Homo sapiens: one gene and its partner. The protein of the gene in region 2 purifies or fractionates together with the protein of the main gene of each other region. This does not show direct contact. Each region holds a gene or a part of one and is shown on either strand. Other genes may lie near its edges. The genes, in order: RNF121 and PIGU.

Region 1 (3,821 bases), on a different chromosome or scaffold from region 2:
TGTTGCCTGTAATATAGCTGACATTCGACAAGATTTCTAAGGAAACAGTTCTGGAAAGTTAACCTGTGGATGTTAAGTCCTGCTTCATTGTTGGGCACTTAGGTTGTTTTCAATTTAGTATTATCCCAGATAACGCTGCTCTGTTGCTTCCTAAGGGTGCATTCCTAGGGATGGAATTTTGGCTGTTGCTTCAGTTGTCATAAGCCTTCCAAAAGATCTTTATTAGCTTACAGGTCCTCCCACCCCGAATTGAGTCAGATGCCAAGAAATCCTGAGCTCAGAGACTGGAGCATGCAGTGAGTCAATGAGGCAGATGAGGGTGGAAATAATGCTTTCCTGGATGAAATACTGGTGGCTGTGGGCTGTGGATCAAGAGGAGCCCTAAGCCTACGACAGTGCACTGAAGCTAGAGATCTAGGATTCAAATTTAAGATAATGAATGGGATGATCACTGGCCTCTTCCCTGAGCCTAGTTATATTGTAGGCAGGAGTCTCTGAAAGGAGTTTATTTTAGGACAAGTAAAAATAAATCCTGGCCAGGTGTGGTGGCTCTCACTTGTAATCCCAGCTATTTGGAAGGCTGAGGCAGGAGGACTGCTTGAGGCCAGGAGTTCAAGACCAAGCTGGGCAACATAGTGAGACTCTCAACTCTTAAAAAAAAAAAAAAAGAAAGAAAGAAAGAAAATTAGCTGGGTGTAGCAGTGTGCACCTGTATCCCCAGCTACTCAGGAGGCTGAGGTGGGAGAATTGCTTGAGCCCAGAAGTTCAAGGCTGCAGTGAGCTATGATTGTGCCACTGCACTCCAGCTCAGGTGACAAAGGGAGACCCCCATCTCGAAAAAAATAAAAATAAATAAATCCTATTTTATATAGTGAGAGTGCACTCATGAAATTCTTTCTTCTAGGGGTAGTACAGGCTGAAGGAATAAACAGGCTCCTGAAGGGTTTAGAGGAATTCATCACTGTAGAGTCAAACACATCTTGTCAAAGAAAACAGATATCTCCTGGTAACTTTCTAACCTGTATGGTTAAAAAATAAAATAAAAATCAAGATTCTGCATTATGGGATTCTGCATTATGGTTTTTTGTTTGTTTGTTTGTTTGTTTGTTTGTTTTGAGATGGAGTCTTGCTTTGTCGCCTAGGCTAGAGTGCAGTGGCTCACTGCAACCTCCACCTCCCGAGTAGTGGGGTCAAATGATTCTCCTGCCTCAGCCTCCTGAATAGCTGGGACTACAGGCATGAGCCACCACACCCGGCTAATTTTTATATTTTTAGTAAGGATGGGGTTTCACCATGCTGGCGAGGCTGGTTTCGAACTCCTGACCTCAGGTGATCCACCTGCCTTGGCCTCCCATAAGTGTTAGGATTACAGGTGTGAGCCACCACGCCTGGCCTCTGCATTAAGTTTTAAAGATAATTCTTCTATAATTACAGTTTCTTTTTACTTGCCTGAACTCTACAATGAGGAAAACAGAATTGAGAATCTTGATCATTTTTGTGCTACTGATCAAATTAAGTGGTGTAAGATCAATGATTTCTAGTGAGTTAAATATTCAGGGTTCATAAGCAAATGCAGCTTTGTATATAAATATAATTTATAACTAAGCACATACATACGGTTCTTTGTACAAATATTTTAACAGATAATTTTCTATAACAAAGATTTATAGACTCAAGGTTGCAAATTATCGGTCCTTGGAATTATTAAAACAAACCTTCTGATGTTATAGGCAAGATCTTTATCCTTCTTGTTAAATAGACTTGGACCAAAATTTAACTTTGATGATATGATACAGATTATTTATATTTGTAGTTTATAATTTTATAGTAACTGCTATATATTAATAAATATTTACTAATTTTATCTTTTTTTCTTAAACCTGTGTTTGACAAGCTGTTTCTGTAAAGGTCCAAATAGTAAATATTTTAGGTCTTATGGGACAATAGGCCAAATCTAGGATATCATGTAGGTACTTATATAACAAGAGAAAAAACTCCTACCCTGTCCCACCCTCTTTGCCTGGGGAAGGGGCCAGGTCTCAGGTAGTGGGCATGCTTTGTGCTCTGTTGTCATAAGCTGAGACAATCTCAGAAAGAGGGGCATGTGGCCACCGGAGTAATTTTCAGTCTCTGCACCAGTGACACCCAGATTCTGGCATGCCCTTTCCTCCTTATGGATGGCTCAGCTGTTTCAACTTGAGTGGCTAGCTGGAAGAGAGACAGCTCAGCAAGGCAGCTCACTTAGTGTCCAGAAGTTACCAACAGTGGAGTCCCCACTATGTAGGTCCCGATGAGCATAGGTCCTGGGTAGCTGCAAGTCATTGTCACCAGTTAGGGGAGGCAAGGACTAAGAGCAGAGTGAGGAAAAGGGGTAGGAGGGGATACTGTAGCTTGGTCTTCACAGCCTACAGTGCTAGCTAGCCTCCTCAAGAGGTGTTCATGGGCCATATAAAAATAGACAGCAGACTGGATTTGGTCATAGTTTGCCCGCACTTGCTCTAGCCTTTGGGCCTTCTCGCTTTGGGCCCTGCCTTGTGTGTCCCAGAGTAGTAATCCATAGAAGATATGTCTCAGGGTGGGTCTTTCTAGCTCTAATGCTTCCCTTGCAGGATCAAACCAGAAGATGCCATGGACTTTGGCATCTCCCTTCTCTTCTATGGCCTCTACTATGGAGTTCTGGAACGGGACTTTGCAGAAATGTGTGCAGACTACATGGCATCTACCATAGGGGTAAGTTCATCCGGGTTCTTAAATACTGCTTCTTGACACCTCCAAATTGCTCAAGTTGATGTCACTTGTTTAATGGAAGAGAAAGGCACTAGGGTGAGATAAGCCACATAAAATCCTTCAAGATGTGCATATGCATGGACATTCCTTCCTTAAAGTTTGGAAAGCAACACAGCCATAAAAAAAGATAAAACCATGTGCGTTGCAGCAACATGCCAGCTGGAGGCCTTTATCATAAGCCAGTTAATGCAGGAACAGAAAACCAAATACTGCATGTTCTTACTTATAAGTGGGAACTAAACATTGGATATTCATGGACATAAAGATGGCAACAGTAGGCACTGGGGACTACAAGAGGAGGAGGGAGTGGGGACAACGGTTGAAAAACTATCTGTTAGGTAACTGTGCTCATTACATGGGCAACAGGATCATTCGCACCCCAGACCTCAGTATCACGCAGTATGCCCATGTAACAAACCTGCACATGTACCCTCTGAATCTAAAATAAAAGTTGAAATTATTAAAAAAAAAATTAGCCAGATCTCAGATGTACCCTATAATTTTTCTCTTTAGGGCCATTATAGGAAAGAGCCACTTTATCCAGCAGGAAGTTAACATTCATTCAGTAGATACTTTTTAATGCCTGCTATGTGTCTAGACACATAGCTATATGCCAGAATTACAAAAGTGTACAAAAATAAACATGGTTTTTGCCCAGATAAACTTTACTCTTAGGTGGGAGAGATGGCTATTACAGTAACAAACACAGATAAAAATAAAATTACAACTTTAATAAGCATTATGTAGGAAAGGTTCATGATGCTGTAAACACATGTAGTAGTGTCATTTGACCTAGTCTTGGGGCTCAAAGATGGCTTCCTTGAAGAAGTGACTATGGAGCTGACTTGAACAATGAATAGCAGTTAAGTGGATGAAGTGAGAACCAGGCAGAGGAAAGAGCATTCATAAGAGTCCTGTCACGGGAGAAAGTGTGGGTGTTTTTGAGGAACTAAGACCATTGCGGTTGTATGGCCAAGAAGTGCCTGGAGAAGTAGTGACTAGACTAGAAAAAAGCCTGTGGGCCAAATTAAAGA
Region 2 (3,821 bases):
CAAGCGATCTACCCACCCTGGCCTCCCAAAGTGCTAAGATTACAGGCATGAGCCACTATGCCTGGCCAATAATTCTTAGTTACCTTGGTATACTTTTCCTATGGGTGATAATAAAAGCATATCATCCTGTATAAGACAAATATTATTTTTCAGTTTCCCGTATCAATAAGGACAAAAGCTTGTTCAAAAGCAGTAGTGTCCCTATACTTCTAGCTGAGGGCCTAAGAAGCAGCATCACTCCAGCTGCAATGAACACACCTAGCATTCAGAACTTTGTTTCTAAATAACATTCTCTAATAAAAGGAGCCAGGGCCCTTGAAGAAGTGGTCAATTCCAGGGCTGAACTAAGCAAGATAAACCTGGATCATCTTATAGTTCTAGAATGTAATAAAGTGCTTTTAAAAAAAAAAAGTGAGATAGAGGTATGGCAAAAGGACAAAGGGGTCAAGATGAAAGCGGTCCCAATGGCCAAAACTAGAATAATCCAAACAACAGAATGAATATAGTATACAGAGTCCAGAGTATAAAATATCCAAATCTATACTGACATAAATAGTTAAATAAATGCAAAGAAATGACAACTCTTCCTTACAGAAGAATTTTAATTATTAAATAAAAATGAATGAGAGAAACAGAAAAGTCACCATTGAAACACCTGAGTAATGACTGTTACAGGCAAGATTAACCTATGAATGCAAAAATTAGTAGGCAAAAATTTAAAAACAGGATATTTGCAGAGCTCCAAAGAATAGCCCCTAAAATGCTGATTAATTACAAAGGGAAACAGTCACTTTATGGTGGAGAAATCTGGCAGACACTACATTAACCAAGGGATTATGGCTGACATCACCAGTATTAGGGCATTTCAATATGCACCCCTGATCCAATGCACTGAGAGGACCATATCATCTCAGGGGTATTCTTCCCCAAAATCCATTACCTCCGTCAAACCACAAGAAAACATTAGACAAAACCAAATTGAGGGACATTCTACAAAATACCTGACCAGAGCTCTTCAAAGTGTCAAGGTCATAAAAGATGAGGAAATGCTAAGGAACTATCACAGATAAACGACTAAGGAGATATAACAACTAAACGCAATATGTGGCCAGGCGCGGTGGCTCATGCCTGTAATCACAGCATTTTGGGAGGTCGAGGCAGGTGGATCACCTGAGGTCAGGAATTCGATACCAGCCTGGCCAGCATGGTGAAACCCCGTATCCACTAAAAATACAAAGATTAGCTGGCATGGTGGCAGGGACCTATAATCCCAGCTACTCGGGAGGCTAAGGCAGGAGAATCTCCTGAATCTGGGAGGTGGAGGTTGCAGTGAGCCGAGATCTCGCCACTGCACTCCAGCCTGGGTGACAGAGCGAGACTCCGTCTCAAAAAAAAAAAAAAAAAAAAAAGGGGGGGGCGGGCGTGCTGGCTCACACCCGTAATCCCAGCACTTTGGAGGCTGAAGTGGGCAAATCATGAGGTCAGGAGATCGAAACCATCCTGGCTAACATGGTGAAATCCCATCTCTACTAAAAATATAAGAAATTAGCCAGGCGAGGTGGCGGGCACCTGTAGTCCCAGCTACTCGGGAGGCTGAGGCAGGAGAATGGCATGAAACCGGAAGGCGGAGCTTGCAGTGAACCAAGATCGTGTCACTGCACTCCAGCCTGGGTGACAGAGCGAGACTCTGACTCAAAAAAATAAATAAATAAATAAATAAAATAAAAATAAAAATGCAATATGGAATATTAGATCATAGAACAGAAAAAAAATTAGTGAAAAAATGGTAAAACTTTTTTTTTTTTTTTTTTTTTTTTTTTTTTTTTACACAGGGTCTTGCTCTGGTGCCAGGCTACATACAGTGCAGTGGCATGATCATAGCTCAATGCAGCTTCCTCATCCCAGGCTCAAGCAATCCTCCCACTTCAGCTTCCCAAGTAGCTGGGACCACAGGTGTGCGCCACCAAACCAGCTAACTCTTTTTTAATTTTATGTAGAGAGGGAGTCTCCCTATGTTGCCCAGACTGGTCATAAATTCCAGAGCTCAAGGCATCCCCTCGCCTCAGCCTCCCAAAGTGCTGAGATTATAGGCATAGCCACTGTGCCCAGCAAAAATGGTAAAATCTTAACAACTATGGTTTAGTTAATAGTATTGTACCAATGCTATCATCTTAGTTTTGATCACTGTACTATGACTATGTAGGATATTAACATTGGGGGAAGCTGGGTGAAGGGTATACAGATCTCTCTGCAATATTTTTGCAAGTATTCTGTAAGTTTAAAATGATTTCAAGTAAAAAGCTAAAAAACAGGCTGGTGCAGTGACTCATGCCTGTAATCCCAGCACTTTGGGAGGCAGAGGCAGGTAGATCACTTGAGGTCAGGAATTCAAGACCAGCCTGACCAACATGGTGAAACCCTATCTCTACCAAAAATACAAAAATTAGCTGGGTGTGGTGGCACACACCTGTAATCCCAGCTACTCAGGAGGCTGAGGCAAGAGAATTGCTTGAACCCAGGAGGTGGAGGTTGCAGTAGGCCAAGATCACACCACTGCACTCCAGCCTGGGCAACAGAGTGAGACTCTGGCTGAAAAAAAAAAAAAAAAGTAAAAAACAAAAAACAGTGGTATCTAGTCTCTGGATCCAGCTGCCTATTTGCAGGAAATAGAGATGATAGAGGAACATGTTAAATTGTATCATGATATATAATCAGGAAAATTCAAACTATGGGAGATCTGTCTGGATTCTTCAATAGATAAACACTATGGAAGAGAAAGGGAACCTGGGACCCTAAAAATTAAGAGAGATTGAAAACACAAACAAAAACTTTTTTCTTAGGGGCAAGACTAAGCCTAACGGCAAATGAACTAGGGATGTTCATTTGAGTAATAAAACTTTTAAAAATACAAAGATGTCATTACATATAAAAGTCAGGATAATAGTTACTTATGAAAAGAGTGAGGGGATTGTGACGAAGGGGGGCTTCTGAAGTGAGTGGCAAAGTTCTGATTCTTGACTTGGATGACAGTTACAAAAATGTTCACCTTACAATAATTCACCATAGAATACATTGTTATGTGTGTCTTACAAATTCTGTTTAATTTTGTAATAACGGCTTTTTTTTTTTTTTTGAGACAAAGTCTTGCTCTATTGCCCAGGCTGGAGTGCAGTGGCATGATCTCAGCTCACTGCAACCTCCACCTCCTGAGTTCAAGTGATTCTCCTGCCTCAGCCTCCTGAGTAGCTGGGACTACAGGCTCCTGCCACCACACCCAGCTAATTTTTGTATTTTTAGTAGAGACAAGGTTTCACCATGTTGCCTAGGCCGGTCTCGAACTCAAGCTCAAGCAATCTACCCACCTCCCACCTTAGCCTCCCAAAGTGCTGGGATTACAGGTGTGAGCCACCTCGCCTGGCCATAAAGGCTTTTTTAAGTAGTGGTATCAGAAGTGCTCTTCCTGACCCTGATTCTTTTATTTTTGAGACAAGGTCTTGTTCTGTCGCCCAGGCTGGAGTGCAGTGGTGCAATCTTGGCTCACTGCAGCCTCCACCTCCTGGGCTCAAGCCACCCTCCCACCTCAGTCTCCCAGGTAGCTGGGACTACAGGCACACGCCACCATACCCACCTAATTTTTGTATTTCTTTTTTGTAGAGGTGGGGTTTCACCATGTTATCCAGGCTGGTCTCAAACTCCTAAGCTCAAGTGATCTGCCCACCTCAGCCTGCCAAAGTGCTGGGATTACAGGCTTGAGCCACCATGCCCAGCAACCCTGATTCTCATAGCTGTAGTAGGGGTGGGTTTCTAGATAAGTACTAATA

The links.
Region 1: the proteins of PIGU (region 2) and RNF121 purify together in Homo sapiens (affinity purification with western blotting, with the first as the bait; one study listed by BioGRID). This does not show direct contact.

What each region holds. Positions count from the first base shown.
Region 1 is NC_000011.10:71,987,988-71,991,808, forward strand, and holds part of RNF121 (E3 ubiquitin ligase RNF121), read left to right. Parts: intron 1-2,609; coding exon 2,610-2,730; intron 2,731-3,821. UniProt on the Homo sapiens protein: E3 ubiquitin ligase which accepts ubiquitin and transfers it to substrates thereby promoting their degradation by the endoplasmic reticulum-associated degradation (ERAD) pathway which is a pathway involved in ubiquitin-dependent degradation of misfolded endoplasmic reticulum proteins.
Region 2 is NC_000020.11:34,667,075-34,670,895, forward strand, and holds part of PIGU (GPI-anchor transamidase component PIGU), read right to left. Parts: intron 1-3,821. UniProt on the Homo sapiens protein: Component of the glycosylphosphatidylinositol-anchor (GPI-anchor) transamidase (GPI-T) complex that catalyzes the formation of the linkage between a proprotein and a GPI-anchor and participates in GPI anchored protein biosynthesis.